2 separate regions of the Homo sapiens genome follow, and region 2 is linked to region 1. The links come from fine-mapping of genetic effects on gene expression. Tissue or cell type: subcutaneous fat. Region 1 holds a variant in brackets; the other region holds the start of a gene. All regions are shown on one strand. Distances are from middle to middle.

Region 1 (8,175 bases):
TCTCCAGGCCTTTGTTTGGGCCACGCCCTCTGCCTGAGGTGCCCTTCTCATGGCGTCCCACCTGCCCATCCCTCAGAGCCCTACTCATGCACCGCCACCTCTGAGAAGCGTCCCAGATCTCCACACTGAGAGTAAATGCTGAACACCTCCCCGGCCGTTAGCACTCGCCGGCTTCATGGAAGTGTTCATCCAGCCATGGTTCCTGAGAGCCTGCCTGTCTCCATGGTAGGCTCAGAAGCAGCCAAGAACCTGGTTGTTACCATGGTGGTGGCCTCCTTCCCTGGGTGGAGGCTGGGGTGCTGAGGGGTGGCTGGGAGCTTGGTCTGTATTGGACACGTGGGGCTGCCGCTTAGTTTTGCACATCAGGGTGCACATGGACCTCTCAGCAGCCCCTGCCTCAAAGGCCGTCGGTGAGAGCCCAGCACTGGCCTCTGCACACTTCATACATCTGTCTGTTAATTGTGTTCTGTTCGCCTCGCAGACTGTGGGCTCCTCTAGGGCAGGGCCTCCTGGAGTTTCTGCAAGTGCCCAGTGAGTGCTAAAAGAAGAGGCAGGACACATGCCAGATTCAGGGAGGCTCCGTCTCAGCAATATAGCTCCCTCCACCCACTTCAATATAGCTGCCCCCACCCCCTTCACCACAACCACTGCAGGGCCACTGCCCACGGTGGCAGCAGGAGCTCTGCATGGTGGAGGCCGAAGTCAGGTCCCGCATTTAGCAGCCACGCCTGGAAAGGCCTAGCTTGGCCTGGCGGCAGCGGCTCTCGCCCTACATGCCATGCGCTTGGGCAGCCCGGGGACTTTCCAGCGTAGAGCCCAGAACAACACATTCCCCATGCTCCCCTCGCAAAGCCAAGGTGGACACTTTTATTCCTGCAGCCCTACCTCTGGCTTCTCACTCCCAGATGCACCCACATGGTCGTGGGGTCAGGCCCTGGCTCTGAATTTGGGATTTGGCCAAACCCAACATGATAACCTCAGAGGTGTGAACGCACAAAACATCAAGTTCCTTGGCCTTTGACTAGAATTTTGATCAACTCAGGGTGTTACTGTGCAAAAACGGCTCTTGTTGACAGCTCTGGGCTTGATGAGAAAAAAAATTAACAACAATTTTATGTATCTCCTTCTAGATCTTTTCTGGGCCCACACACATATTATACAGATCTCATCAATAATGGAGAAACTGGTTTTTTGTTCATTGAACACAGTATAAAATAAGGGGATTGTGGTGGTGAGGAAGCAGAGGGGATTCATAAGGGCCCTTTAGGTGAGCCAGCTGGAGCTGGGTTTGGCTTTGGTCCATGGCAGGAGTGGGCAGGGCTTCCTGTCTCTTTGAGGACCTTCCCTCCCACCACCCCCACAGCTCTGGCCTTTCAGGGTGGACAGAGGCCTTTGACCTCCTTCCTCCAGAGACCTGGGGCCTCTGCAAACCCATCCCAAGGCTCTTTGCCTGCAATGTACTAATCTGCTCTGGTTTCTTAAAACTCACTCCATGCTATTGCCTTGAAGTCAATTGTGATGTCATGGGAGATTAGGGCAACTTGTCAGGGATGAACCATCACAGCAGATGGACTCAGAGATACCAAGACACCTTTGGAAGTCTAGTGCCGTTCATCAGAGATACTAAGATGGCACGACCTCCCCGGCCTGCAGCTGGTTCTCATCAGAGGCCTCATTTGGACTCTGAGCACTCTCAGCTCAGCATCTCCTGATGTTGTGGGTGGTTCAAGAGACAAGAGAAACAGATGTAGATTGGTCAGAATCTGGCTGGGGAGGTGGGAATGACATTGTGGTGCTCACAGTTTTATCGAGGAATATTTGCACCACAGCAGACCTCTGCAGGATGATGGAAGATGCCGGACTTGCTGTCAGAAGCTGGCTGGGCATCCCCCCACACAGGGAGATCTCCTGGCAAGTTGTAGAACTGGCTGACCCTCGGCTTCTCAGCTGTCTATGGAGGATCATAGCATCTGCCACGTAGGGCTGTTTTCCTGAGGTTTAAATAGGATGAGGCTTGTGAAATGGGATGTGAAATAAGAGACTGACGTGGAGGAGAAGTGCAAACAGGGAGGTGAGGTGTGCTTGAGGTTTTAAAGCAGCGGAATGTTACACAGTATTTCTGGCCTGTTCCCCGGGTCCTTTCCTGACCCCACCCTGGCTGTGAGCAAGGCAGGGCTCCTCTGTCCTGGGCAATCGGTGATCCTTGGAGCAGCGGGGAGTTCTGTCCACTGCAGAATGCCTGGCTGTCTTTTCAGGTTGTTTTAATTCCTCCTTGCTACTCTCAGCCCTCCTGCAGGCTTACAGTTCCCTCCCATTAGCTAAACAAAGGATCTCAGAGCAGTTACTTGCACCTTAGTGTGAATGATTTTGTTCACTTGTTCCGTCTCCCTGGATATTTGCATTTTCAATATAATGAGGTTGCGTTTTATGCCAGGGACAAGTTCTAGGAGACCCTGCATCATTCAAAACTAACATATTTTAAGACTAATTTTCCTGTAGGAATTAATGTAGAGTGTGTGGGGGGGGGGGTGGTATATTCTGAGAGCACATAAATCCATAACCAGTGAAGTGTATCTTTGCCTTAATGCTACTTTTTATTTTCTCAGCATTATCTTGAATACCTTGCAGAACGCTCTCTCCTAAATTAACAGCCCAGGGTATCATGGGCTCCCTTGGCCTTCCTCATAGCGTTTTGTCACATTTAACTTCCGTACCAAAGTTATTGATTTTTGGGTACATTTTTCAGCACGAGCACTGCCACTGCTACTTAATGAATACTTGGATGACATTGTTATGGGATATAAAAAAGATTTTAAATTATAATAACAGTGAATGTTAAAATAACAGCATATTAGTCCCCATCATTGCAAGAAGAAAATCCTGTGTGTGTAGCAGTGCCGAACCAGCGGGCCACCAACCAGGATGACGGGTCTATCCCAGTGGCGCTACCATCTGGCTGTGGTGAAAAGAATTTATAATTCCGTAGGCCAAGCTATTTTGAAATTAAGTGATTCTCGAGAAATTAAAACATTTTTGGTGATTGCATTATTTCACATTTTTTAATATAAAGATTGTACACAAGTGCACTATTTCCCATTTGCATAATTCAAAGTTGCATCAGACACTCCCGTGTAGACTATAAATATGCACAGAAGGGACAGACTCCTCAGAATGAAAAGGAAGGCATTTTGGAGGTTCCCCTTTGTCTTTTGGAATGACTCTCTAAGTAGTGTAGTCTCTGTGGCAGGGGCTCCGGAATCCCTACCCTTCGGGTTCAGGGCTTCAGGGAGGGAGTTGGGCCACAGTAGTTCCGGGATGACAGTGGCCACGTGAGAGAAGAAAACAGCCCGAGGAGAAGGGAAGGCACGGGTGTGTCCCCCCTCACTGTGTACACACATGTCCTGGCTGCACAGCTGCTTCATTCCTCTAGTGCCTCCCAAGATCAGGGCAGGCCGTGTTGCCCTCTGGACTTCCAAGGGGGAAGTGAGTTACTGGCCCAAGTCACTCACTCATCAAGAACACTGAAGCCAGGTCTGCTGACTCCAGGGAGAGCCTTGTAGATTGTGAGGACCGAATGCATATAAAGTCCTTAGTCAACACCAGCACATGGTAGGTGCTAACACATGTTGGCTACTATTGTTTCTAAGAGAGGGTTTTCTTGAATGGAAAGAAAGGAGAAAAGACAGAGAGGAAGTCAGGAATGTCACAGAGACACCTTCTGGGGCACACAGGTGAGCAAGCACAGAGAGCAGAGCTGCCCAGGCCAGCTGCTGACTTTATTCCGTGTGTCCTCCAGGGGCACTGTGGAGAAAAGGGCAGTATGCCTAAGTGCTGGGAGAGGAAACAAACCTTTACATTCACCTGTGCTTCCGAACACACGCACGCGCCTCTCTCTGTACCTGACTTTGAATGGAACAAACCAGACTTTAACTAACAGGAACTTGAGCTTGTTCACTCAAAATCTGTCTAGGACTTTGTGTTGATCAGTCAGTGTGTTGCCCAGAACATTCCTTAGACTAGTTTTCTCAAAAAATTTTGACTACAATCCACAGTAAAACTCATTTTACATTTCATCTCAGTACACATATTTATACAATAAAAACTAAAGTTTAATGAAATGATCTTGCCATTCCATCCCATTCTCTTCATCTGATTTCCTGTTTTAGTTTTGATCCACTAAGGTGACTTTACAGCCCACGAGTGGGTTCTGACCTATAGTTTAGAAACCTGCTTAGACACTGTTGGGTGTGCAAGCTCACCCCTGGCTGTGAGCCCAGCGACGCCAGGGCAAAGGTGACATGGCTGTGGGGAAATGGGAGACTCCTGATGAGACAGAGGGGAGGGCATC[T/C]GGGGCGACTTTGAACATGACTTCAACCTGGCTGTTCACCTTCACAGCTCTGGCAAGAACTCATGAGGATGTGTGAGCAGAGTGTTTGTCATGACAGGGACGTGTGGAATTGGGTACATTCAATCTGATGAGACTTCTGTGCAGCTGGGCTGGCAGGGGAGGGTTGAGGCAGGGAGCTGAGCAGAGAAAGGACTGCTGTCCTCACTTTTCAGTGGCTTGGGAAGGCCCGTGGTGCAGGAGTCAGTGCCATGAGAGTGGGGACCTCTCCACTCTGATGTCCCCTGTGCCTCGCGCTGTCCTGCCTACAGCAGGCAGGCTTAGGTGCAGAAAGGATGGAAGGGAGGGTGTGGGAGGAGGCGCAGCTGCTGCAGATAGGCCGAAGCCAGTAAGCAGTGGTTTTTCCTTGCAGATGACTCAGAGGCTGGAGCTAAGCGGCCCCGGACCACCATCACAGCCAAGCAGCTGGAGACATTAAAGAATGCATACAAGAACTCCCCCAAGCCTGCCCGGCACGTGAGGGAGCAGCTGTCCTCAGAGACAGGCCTGGACATGAGGGTCGTACAGGTGAGATGCCAGCACTCCTGTGCCCTCCGGGGATCCCAGGCCCGGGACAGGGGTGGAAGGTATCCTGAGTGACATCAGCTCACGGGTGGTTGGGCTCAGGGCTTGACCCCAGGGCTTTTGCCAGAACTGAAGACAGAGTTCTGAGGCCCACCTGGGGAGAGGGGGTGGGGCGCATCGCACTCCCAGACCTGTGCTCCATTCAGGCTTCAGTCTGCTTCCAGCCGCCCGCCTAGGGGGTCCTGGGGGCTTTGGGTTTGTGGTGGACGCCCCCTGAGTATGTCCCTTGTGCTTGTGTGGCAGGTTTGGTTTCAGAACAGAAGGGCCAAAGAGAAACGCCTGAAGAAGGATGCAGGGCGGCACCGCTGGGGGCAGTTCTATAAGAGCGTCAAGAGGAGCCGGGGCAGCAGCAAGCAGGAGAAGGAGAGCTCTGCAGAGGACTGTGGGGTTAGTGACAGTGAGCTGAGCTTCCGAGGTGAGCAGGGCTGGAGGGGCCAGGCCGAGGCCTTAGGAAAGTCCCCTGGGAATCTGTAATCCCTGGCACTCAGGAGGGATCTTTCTTGAGGCCTTGGCAACTCCCTCCTGAACACAGGCTTTTCCTTAAGACTTGCAGTGAAGGGTGGGGGAAATGGTAGTGGCCCTTTACCATGGGACAGGAGTAGGAAACAAGATTGCTGAGGTCTGGAAGCTGGGATGGGCCAGGCCCCGTCCTGTGGCCCCAAGGTCTCCCCTCCCCTCCTGCTGACTGGGGCCTCCCTCATCAGCCCACACAGCTATGAACAGATGACTGGGTTCCAGCCTTGTGCCCCTAGCCCCTCTCCCATCTTTGTCCCCTTTGCTGGGACACTGGCCTACTCCCATAGTCCCCTAGAGCCACCCCTTCCTCCAGTCCTGGTGGTGGGGAGGTCATGCTCCACAGGTTTTTTCCTGGGAAATCAGTACTGTGAGTGCATGTGAGATGGGGAACTGGCTTCACTTCCGAAATCCCTTTCCCCACCACTCACTTCATTCTGTCCCCTGCACACAAGCTTTGCAGCATGCACTATATTCAAATTCATGCATCAGCAAAATTGTAAATTACTGCATGTTATGAATCCTCAGGTTGTTTGCAAAGAATCATAACTGTTCTCAGGTACTGAGTTCTCAAATGTGGAAGGTCTTCTGCGGAGGGGGAAAGGGAAGAGTACTCAACTGGCGATCAGAGACCTGGTTTCCAGTGCAGCTCTGTCAAATCGATTCACTTCTCTTGAGCCCCAGTATTCCCAAGAGGAATACCATATCTTTGCCCATCTCACTGCGTTGTGGGGATCAATGAACACAACCAACTGTGGATGTGCTTGGGGAAAGCCTGGCACATTTGTATACCTGGAAGGCATGATCGTTCCCACAGGGAGCGTGTGGCTCCCGCAGAGGGCCCTGGTCATTTGGGATGACAGGTATAGGGAAAAGGCTAACTCATGGCCATTTGACAATGGAGTGGAGCCTTCATCTTCCTGCTCCCTTTAAAGAGCATGAGCTCCCCCCACCATGTTTTTTCATAAGGGGAATGGGGGGCAGGCCTCAGAAGGGATGGGGTGTTGAAGTCTAGTCTGGGGAGGCCTTATTTAGGGATTGGTGCAGAGGCCCAGGTGGAAATAGAAAAGGAAGTTTGTGGGACAGAGGATGGAACAAGTTGCCTGCCAGGACAACGATGCCCTGGGAGGACTCTAGTTCAGCCCAGAGGTCAGCTGAGCCCTAGAGGGCAGCCTCCTCTGAGAACACAGGGCCCGTGAGGCCTTGGGGACAGCTCATGGGACTAATACTCACCTTTTAGGCTTCTTGGCAGGATTGGGAAAGTCAATCTCATCTGGGCTGTTGAAGTCAACACCTAGAACATACTGGATTGTTAAGCTCATTTCTGTTGGGTGCAGGTGGGTCCCTGGGCTGACCTATCATTGGTTTCTCTGGGAATAATTTCTCAAAGACTAAAACTGCTCACCTCTGTTGGAGAGAGAAATTCTTTCAAGTGGCAAAGATTCCATTAGATCCCCTTAATGAAATTCTTTAAGAAAAAAGAAGGTTCATTTGCCTTAATCAAGTCAATTCTTTGTCCCCAGTGAAGAGCTTATTGAATACAGACAGAAACCAAGTCCTTTGATATTGAACCTCTCTTCCAGATAGACCAGAAGGATTTTGTACAGATGTCTAAGAGTGGTCCTCAGCTTCCCTGACCATATGGGCCTGCTTGCTTCCCAATCAACTAAACCAAGCCCTTTCTCAGCTTGAAAGCTTTCAGGGTAAATGTTGTCAGCATGTAGTTTCCATTTGTGATGTGGAGACATCTGACCCACCCAGCCTTAGGCATTCATCCTCCTCAGTGTAGCCAGAGTATTAGTACACGAGCCACAAGGGACCAACGAGCTCACCAAACATTTGTCCATCCTTCTGGGACCTGGGAATTTAGTCTTTGCAGGTGTTTCTTGTTTTTCTCCTTGGCCTGGGTTGGCCTCTGGATATCAGGCTGCCATATTGGTGTGTCTGACCCATGCTTGGCTGCAAGGCAGCTGCCATCCTTGGGCATCTTTCCTGGTCATGTGTGTTCCTAGGTTGTGAAGAGCAGGGGACCATCAGAGTCCTGGCAGCTGACAATAAATCTCCGTTCTTTTGTCCACAGAGGATCAAATTCTCTCAGAACTTGGCCACACCAATAGGATTTATGGCAACGTGGGGGACGTTACAGGCGGACAGTTAATGAATGGGAGCTTCTCCATGGACGGGACAGGACAATCCTATCAGGACTTGAGGGATGGGAGCCCCTATGGAATCCCCCAGTCTCCATCCTCCATATCGTCCCTGCCATCCCACGCTCCTTTGCTCAATGGGCTGGATTACACGGTGGACAGTAATTTGGGCATCATTGCGCATGCAGGGCAGGGAGTAAGCCAGACGCTGAGAGCCATGGCTGGGGGACCCACCTCTGACATCTCCACAGGAAGCAGTGTAGGCTATCCCGACTTTCCAACTAGCCCAGGCTCTTGGCTCGATGAAATGGATCATCCTCCTTTTTAAACTTCTCTCCTCCCCACCCTACCTGCCCCCCTGGCTTGAGAGAATATCTTCAAGGATCAAAAGAGACTTGCCTTTTAAGGATCGAAAGTACGCCAATGTGAATTTCCATTATTTTCAATGGAAGTCCTCCGCTGATTCCTAGAAGGCTGTGAGACCACACTAGGGCATTGTTTCCCTGGGGAAGCAGTGGGAGAGCAGACTCATCTCAGAACACAGCA
Region 2 (8,175 bases), 40 kb before region 1:
GCAGAATAGCGTGAACCCGGGAGGAGGTGGAGCTTGCAGTGGGCTGAGATCACGCCACTGCACTCCAGCTTGGGCGACAGAGCGAGACTCCGTCTCAAAAAAAAAAAAAAAGAAAGAAAGAAAAAAAAGCCTCAGAATGTGGAAAGGGCATTTATTGGCTGAGCTGCACTGTGTGTGTGGGCATGGGGGTGCAAGGTATGTTGGAGCTGCTGCTTACAGGTGCAAGAACTGAGAGCTAAGCTGACTTTCCTGGGCTTGTCTGCCAAACGACACAGGTGAAAGTGGTATCCCCTGAATCAGTCTTGGGCAGAGATAAGTCCCCACCACAGTAAGGCTGTTCCTCACCTACTGACAGGCTAGTGACATGCAATGGGAAAAGGGCAGGACCCCAGCAGGTTCAAATCAGAGAAGCAGGAGCTGCAGAGAGCATTTTTAAAATATAATTTTAAATTATAAAAGTAATTACTATATATGCTTTACATTCACTGCATTTGAATGTTATCTTTTACTAATGTTACTGAAAAATAATCACTTTACAGAAAATCTGGAAAAGAGAAAAAGGAAAAAATTCCATAATACATCTCCCTAATATACCTTTTTCCAAATATTCTTTTGAATAGTATTTTGGTATCTTTCCTTACCTTTTCCCTAATATTTTAAAAAGCATTTTATTAGTTTTTTTCTGCTTTATAAAATAATGTGCTCATTGAGAAAACTGAAAAAAGCGAAGAGAATAAAATAAAATATCCACTGCACAGATAACCACTTTTACACTTTGGCATTTTTTTTACTCCTCCTAAACAATTTTTTATTGAGGTAAAATATACATATAATTTACCATCTTTACCATTTTTAAGTGTACAGTGTTTATGCTTTTTTTAAGAAAAGTTCCTGAAGTTCATACCGCTTCATATTCTTTTTTCACATTTCCTAATAAATCTCAAACCCTTTTCTACATTAAATATTCTTCTGTTGTATTATTTCTAAGACTTCATAACATTCCATTTTACTTAATAATTTACTGTAACTTATTTACTATCCCCTATTGTTGGATATTTAGGTTTTCCCTTTTAAAAACCTTATAAACATCCTTGTAACTACATCTTCACAAACATTCTTGATTATTTTCTTTGGATAAATTTCTATAGAGATTGGGTCAAATGCATCACATTTGTAGCCAAAACGTCCTGAGAAGACATTTCCCCTCTTTGCAATCCCCACTAGGAAATTGTTTTCTAATTTCCCCACAGCCTAACCAACAATGGGTATTATCATTGCCCTTACATTTGACTAAGATTTTTACATATTTATAATCCTATGCTATTGCATTGTGCTTTTAAAAAAAATAGTATTTCACAAGCATCCCCATGTTATTGGGTTTCATAATTGGTTTCCATGATTCCATAACATACTACCAAACAATTTAATCTACTTCCCTAAGCCACTTTTCTTTTGTTGGCTATTTAGGTTATTTTTCTCCAAAACATAATACTGTAATAAACATTTTCACGCATGAAACTTTTATAAAAAATTCTAGATTATTTCCGTGGAACAGACATTCAAAAGTACTACATAAACTAAAGGGTATGAAAAATTTATGAGTTTGATACATATTGCCAAATTTCTTTCCAAACGGATGTTAAGAGTTTATAAGCACCCAGCAGTATTGGTGAGTGTCCAAGCCCCTTTCGCCAGTCCTGAACTCTAGGATGCCCCTCCCGCGCGTCGGGCATCTCACAAACAGAAAAAGCTGTGCACGTGTTGTTTTGTCTTGCGTGTTTTTCACTGCAAATGAGGCTGGCGTTTCCCCGTGTTTGCTTACTAGTTATATTTCTATAGAACACATTTTGGTAAACACTAAAAATGTCACTGGGTTCTTTTGCTTTTTTCTTCTTGTGTATATTGTCTCGCGCGCGGAGTCACCTCGCAGGTAAACAAGGGAAGAGATGATGCCAACCCAGTACCAGGACACACAAAAGTCACTGTGACCTCATTGGAGACAAATTCTAAGCAGCGCAGACGACCAGGCCATTCTCCCCCGCCCCATGCTCCTCCCTTAAAGGTGAGCAGGTGTCCCTTGTTTGGAGATGACACCAGGGGAAACAGCAGGGAAGGTTCTGGAAGGCTGGGGAGGGCACACAGTCCCCCTTCCCGCCTAAGCTGAACCCCACTAGGCTGGAAGGACACGTATGTCTGCATTTCTGGAAGGAAATGCCGTGGGGGCTGGGGGCAGGAGAGCGGCTGGGTCTTGGGGCAGACGGGGTGGGCTTCCCGCGCCTGCAGCCCGGAGGCGTCGAGCGCCTGATGGAGCGTCAGAGGAGACCTCGTCCCAGCGTTGGGCCTTCTGTTGTATTTCTGCCAGAAACTCGCGTTGAGGAGAATTTGTTTTAAGCGTTTCTCTACCTGTCCATGCATCTCGTAAATACAGTAAGCATGGCAAGCCCTTTCGCTGGTTAACCCCGGCGTCCGTGTGCTCACTGCCGCCCTGCACGCACGAGGTCGCGGATGGTTCAAAGCACCCGCGGTGGCAGCCGGAGAGGCAGAGCGGGCTCTAGGGACCTAAGACAGGGCCGAGCTGGACGACTGGTGGCAGGGCGGCCGGGGAGGCCCCGCCGCGGGGAGGTTTGGGCCCCCTACCCTGCGGAACTGGAGGCAAGTGCGGACTCCGGCTGCAGGCCGCGGTCTGCGGGGACGCGCGCGGGGGGCCTGCGTCCCGCCACCTCCGCGCACAGCCCCTGGTCCCCTTCCCCAGCCCGGGCCGGCGCCGCCCGCCGCGTGACTCGCGCGTTCCGGGCCGAGTACGGGCTGTCCCTTGGCCCAGCCTCAGCCAGACGCGGGGGAGAGAGAGCAGGGGCTGGGAAGTGCCGGCAGGAAAGGAATTGGCCAGGGGAAAGAGGAGGAGGAAGATAGATGGAGTCATCGGTTACGGAGCGCGCTCCGTCCGGCGGAGCGAAGCCGGGGACCGAGAGCGCGCAAGGCGAAGACACAGCGACGCAGCCCCGTCCCCGGCCTCCGGACCGCCTGCCCCGCTCGGCCCCGGCTCGGCTCCGCCCCGCCCCTGGGTCCGAACGGAGGAGTGAGGAGGACACGAGCCGCGCGGGCTTGGAACCCACGAAGACCCGCAAACCCAGGGCGCCGCCGTCTCCGACCACCTGCTGCCGCGGCAGGCCATCAGCAGAATTTATACCCAGGGCGCGAGCCCGCCACGGCTGGGCGGAGGCGGAGGCGGAGGCGGGGAGGGGGGGGGGGTGCCGGCTTGCGAGGCCCCGCCCCGCTCCCTGCCGCCCCGCCCCCCTCCGCCCCGCCGGCCTCACTCGGGGCGCCGGGACCCCCACTCCCTCCGGGGTCGGCTGCCCGCCGCCGGGTTGGGGGATGTGCCGAAGGGCGGGCCTCCCTGCGGAAAGCGACGTCACGGCCGCTCCTGCAGTGTGAATGAATCAAAACGCCCGGGTGACCGCGGCCTCCCGGGCGGCCGGCACGCGAAGGGTGGAGGGGGAGGGGGAAGGAGCGGGCGGGGGAGGGAAGAGGAAAAAAGCCAGAGCTGCAGCAACAGCGTCTCAACCTGGGATGTGCACCAACCCCGGAGAGCGAGATCAAAGGGACTGGAAACAGACTGGGGACTGGCGGGGGGAGGGGGCCGGCCAGCCTGTGGAGTCCTCCCTGAGAAGCGGAGGGCCCGGCTTCCACCGTGACTCCAGCGGCCTGCTTGGGGTTTTAATTATTATTTTGAAATTTCTGAATCGAGCTAGAGCGAGAGAGCGAGAGATCTCCGTAGACTGCGACTCGCTGGCTTTCGCTCCGAGATGATGCAGAGTGCGACTGTCCCCGCGGAAGGGGCTGTCAAGGGGCTCCCGGAGATGCTAGGTGTGCCGATGCAACGTAAGACACCCCCCTTTCTCGCTGATTTAATTCTAACAAGACAGCTAGCAGCCTCAGCCGCTGCGGGGCGGGCCGGACGCCGCTCAGGGGCCGGGAGGGGCTGGCGGCCGGGGCGCAGAGGCGGTCACAGGGCAGGGGCACCAGCCAGAGTGCGTTTGAGGGGGCCAGGCTCTTGGCTGTTTGGGGCCGAATGTGAACGCCTCCTGGATCATGCTTGAGGCGAGCCGAGTACCGAACCCCGCATCTCCAGCCCAAGGCTTTTCTTGGAACGCTGGGGAGAGTGCTGTTTGGGGACACCCAGGGGTACGAGCTGTAGGCCAGGCCTGAGGGCGAGGGTGGTCCCCACAAATCTTCTTTCGCCGGCGTGACGGTCAGCGCTTGCAGGACCGCTAGTGCAACTTCACCCCAGCTGGCGGGAAGTTGGAGAGCGCGTCTCTCGCCCCTGGGGCTGGCGGCGGAGAAGCCCCGGCCACACTCTTAGTCCCTGCGGCCCGCGCCCCGGGCGTGCGTGCCGGGTGAGTCCCCAGCCGCTACTGCCCGCGGCGCCCGCCGCGTGCGCCGCGGGAAACTGACTGCTCCTTGTGAGGGAATCTGCTCGCGCATTCCAGCTAGCCTAGGAATGCAGGGGAGGGAGAAGCGACCGCAAGTTGTGAATTCCGGGTTCAGCCTTTGCGCACGCGAGGGCAGGTGCTCAGGGTGGCTCGGGTTTGGAGGGGTAGAGACGGGGGTGTGTGGGAGCTTTGCTAGCCTGCCCGCCCGCTTTCTTCCCGCGCCCGAAATTAGCGAGACAGCCGGAGCTCGCGGCGTGTTTATCCCCAAGTCTCTCTCTGTGTGTATGGGTGTGCGCGCGCAGAGATTTTCCCGAAGGGAATCCGTCTCTGTGCTTCACTCCTGAGCGAGAGTCCCCGAGAGGGAATCTGTGCAGAGGCCAGAACAGGTGCCCAGTCGTCGCGCGCGCGCGCGCGCGCGCGCGACAAGCGCCGGGAGAGTCCTGCCCCTGTGGCTTGCACGCTCAGCAGGGCGCCCCGGGCACCCTGGAGAGACCAAGGAGTTCCTCGCTCCGCTTGCCAAGGGGTTGTACTTCCGCCTGCGACTTCTTTAGTGGTGCGGTAGCTACATCTTCGGGGTTTACTTTAAGTAAGGGCCGGCTCATCCAGGGATGGTGACTACCTACAAACTAGGGCGCACGAGCGCGCCCTCCTGCGCCTCGGGTTTCCATGGCAGGGTTTCTGTCCGGCGATCCTTCGGAGGGCAGGCGTACCGTAGGCTTCCCTGGGAAGTTTTTGAGAAGGGACTAGAAAAGAATAGCTTCATCCAAGCCTATTTAGATTGTTTCTTGGCTGTATTCTACAGTTATTCTTTGAGTGTTTTCGTGTCAACTGCCGGCAATCAGTTCCACGTCTGTGTTGAGCCTTGGGGAGTTTACCGCTAAGATGTTTTCATAGAAGGCATTGGAGATTCACTACGCCCCACACCCCGCACACAGGCAGGGACAGAGTGGGTTCTCAGCCCCTGCAAAGACGGAAACAGAAACCCTGCAAAGGTGCACCGAGTCCTTAAGCTGCTTGTAGCTCTGCGCGAGTGAGGAGACTGCATGAGTGGGGGAAGGGTGTGTGTGTGTTACTAGTGTCCTTGGTACCCAGTACGTCTGTGCTTTCATGGCTGTGGTCCGTAGGTGACCTGTCTGTTGGGACCCCAATGAAGGACGATGGTCTCTGCTCTGACGGCCTTTCTTGTGATGAGTGACACTCTGATTGTCTCACTTTTTGCCTTCCCTGTTCAGAGACAACTTTGATGTTCGACGTCAGGGAGTCGCTTTGCTAAAATGCCCAGAACTCACCTTCAGAGCTACAGTTTGCCAAGGCTGAGTCTAGGTTCACACTGTGGAAAACTTGAGGTGTACAAAGGAACTTCCACACCCACCCCCCCAGGGTGGCCCAGGGAGGCAATGTCTAATCTAGAGGGGGTGGTCAGTCCTCCCTTTGTCCGAGTTTCGTGACCTTGGTTGGAGGAGGCATCGGCCAAAATTGAGGGGCCCACTCCCTGAAGACTTCTGGATCCAGCTTTTATTTCCTCTTGGAATGTGAATGGATTGTAGCCTCCCTTGCAGCACATCTGGCCTCTGGCTGTTAGGCTGTTGGTGCTGGGACCGCGGGATAGGTCCCCATCACCCACATATACACAACTATTAGTTTTCTTGGGACTGGGCCCAGTGGCCTAAGAAGGGGGGAAGCTCGAGGGGTTGTGGGGCACACCCTTGGGCCTTCCGGGACAGTAGGCTCTTAAACCCTAGAGGAGGGGAGACAAAAGAAACGCTCTCCCACAGGGGTCCCTCCAGTCGCCAACTAGAAGGGTTTCCCTCTCAACACAGACATGTTTGCCTCTTCATCACATGGAGTCACCACGAATGGAGCACTTGGGGACGCAGGTCTAGGTGTCCCCAAGCTCGGTGCCTCTAGTGCCCTCCCCTCTAGGGGCATTTTAGAAGAAGTGATTTAAATCCAGCTTATTTCGGCGGCAGCTGGACTATTCCTTTGCTTATTTGGGGATGGGTGAGGGGCATACCCTTTAGGAAAACGTTTCCAAATGATGTAATAATTTCTCTCTCATCTCTGGTCTTGCTCCAGACTTGGCCTCTTCCTCGCCACTCTGTCCCGGCCTCCCGCCCCCGCAGGCTCCCGTGCGGACTTAGCAGTTCGCGCCGTAGCCCTCCTGGTTTTTTACCGCGCCTTGGTCGCGCGGCCCCCGGTGCGGGCCTCGTCGCTCCGACAGCCCTACAGCTGTCCCTACGGCCCGCACCGACAGCTCGTCCCCGCCACCTCCCTCCGGGCTGTAGGGACGTCGAGATCCGAATCCTCACAGCGCCTGACCCGGGGCCGTGTTGGGTACGGGTACGGCGAGAGCCTTCCGAGCCGCCTCCAAAACTCTCCCCGCGGACCTCAGCAGTCCCTCCACGCGTCGGGGCCCTGCTGGCCGGCCATGCCCTCTGAGGAGACGCGGAAAAGAGCGAGGCATATAGGAAGGTGGGGCGTTTTATCCGCCTCGGTTTTGACCCATCTGCCATGTAGTCTCCCCAGGCACCGAGGGAAAGGACGACGGAAGCCCGCCGCCCGGATCGCTGGCGGGAGAGAGGGCAGCCCGCACGGGAGAAGGAGGAGCCCCGCGGGGTCTCCGCTGGGGGTGGTAATTGGAATGCAGGCCTGGGGGTCTCTGTCCCCCTCCTTGTCTCCTAAAATGCTTCCGGCAAGCTCTGGCGAACCCCGAAGCTGTAGGAAAAAGGTATTTTATTTTGTGTTTGGTAGGGTCGGGGTAAAGGTTTTCCCTGGGACTTCCTCTCCTGGGGCTCCTCCGGGGTGCGTGGGGTAATGTCCCAGCGCAGGTCGAGTTGCAGATCCGAGTCCCCGGGGTTGTTGACTGTCCTTCTTGCAGGACATTTCTTAAGGGGGTGAGATGGATTCACTGTCCAAGACAGGAGTTCACTCAAACGCTGGTGCTGTTCGCTCTTCTTTCCATTCCTGCCTTGTCTCCTAGTGCGAGAAACAGACACACACAACACACACAAATTATATATATATATATATATATATATATATATATATATATATATATATATATAATAGATTGAGATTCTATCATATTCCGAACATTCCGATATAGCAGCTGTAGGCACCATAGACCTCCCTCCCTGCGTCGCGAGAATATATTCTCAGGCAGGAGACAATTTTTACAGATGAGGTCAGCTGTCCCCGCCGGCCGATTCGGGCCTGATGGGTTGGGGGTTCCGATGTCCTAACTGCTAGGATCCCGTTCCAGCCCCTGGCCAGAGCTGTGTACCACAAAGAAGGGAGTTTGGAGAAACCCGGGTAAGCGCGGCAGCGCCCCGCTTGGGACAGCGGATGGCTGAGGACTCCCAAGGGGCGAGAGGGCTCCGGCCTCCTCCTTTCCAGGGCCTTGTTATCTGAGAGGGCCGTTAGCACGGAGGGAAGCTTGGAAAGCCGCTGTCCCAGTGCGCTCCGCATGCGGAATTAACTGTTAAAGCCGGACACGGAGCACGCAGGTGCAGCAGGTGAGGGGCAAAGGTCTGCATTGAGCAGTCCGCAGTGTCCCGGGAAGTCGTAAAGTCGGGACTGAGAAGAAGCAGGACCTAACTCAAGTTTATTTCCTCTCTTGGCCGAGGTCCGGGCTCGTGGAAAACCAGAGCTAGGCGGGGCTACGCAGGGCTGAGCAGGAGTGGCGTCCTAGGGTCTGGGAGCGCGACCCACATGACCTCGCTACGACCGGGGCAGGGCTCCTCCG

Evidence for each region. PIP is the estimated chance that this variant, and not a neighbour inherited with it, causes the effect.
Region 2: it holds the start of LHX4, and the variant in region 1 is fine-mapped to the expression of LHX4 in subcutaneous fat (GTEx, PIP above 0.99). The same link has a PIP of 0.9 or more in fibroblasts.

Annotation. Positions count from the first base shown.
Region 1 is chr1:180,266,623-180,274,797 of GRCh38, forward strand. It overlaps LHX4 (LIM homeobox 4), which reads left to right. Exons shown (of 6, transcript NM_033343.4): 4 at 4,758-4,912; 5 at 5,213-5,384; 6 at 7,563-8,175. The coding sequence ends at 7,957. LHX4-AS1 (LHX4 antisense RNA 1) reads right to left here and starts at 8,059. Exons shown (of 5, transcript NR_037642.1): 1 at 8,029-8,059; 2 at 7,315-7,490; 3 at 6,716-6,776; 4 at 5,991-6,070; 5 at 3,041-5,349. It also overlaps a transcript of ACBD6 not described here. RefSeq lists enhancers at 2,072-2,366, 4,892-5,819. The variant T/C (reference allele first, on the strand shown) is at 4,349.
Region 2 is chr1:180,226,727-180,234,901 of GRCh38, forward strand. LHX4 (LIM homeobox 4) reads left to right here and starts at 3,538. Exons shown (of 6, transcript NM_033343.4): 1 at 3,538-3,879. The coding sequence starts at 3,804. RefSeq lists a silencer at 2,979-3,108.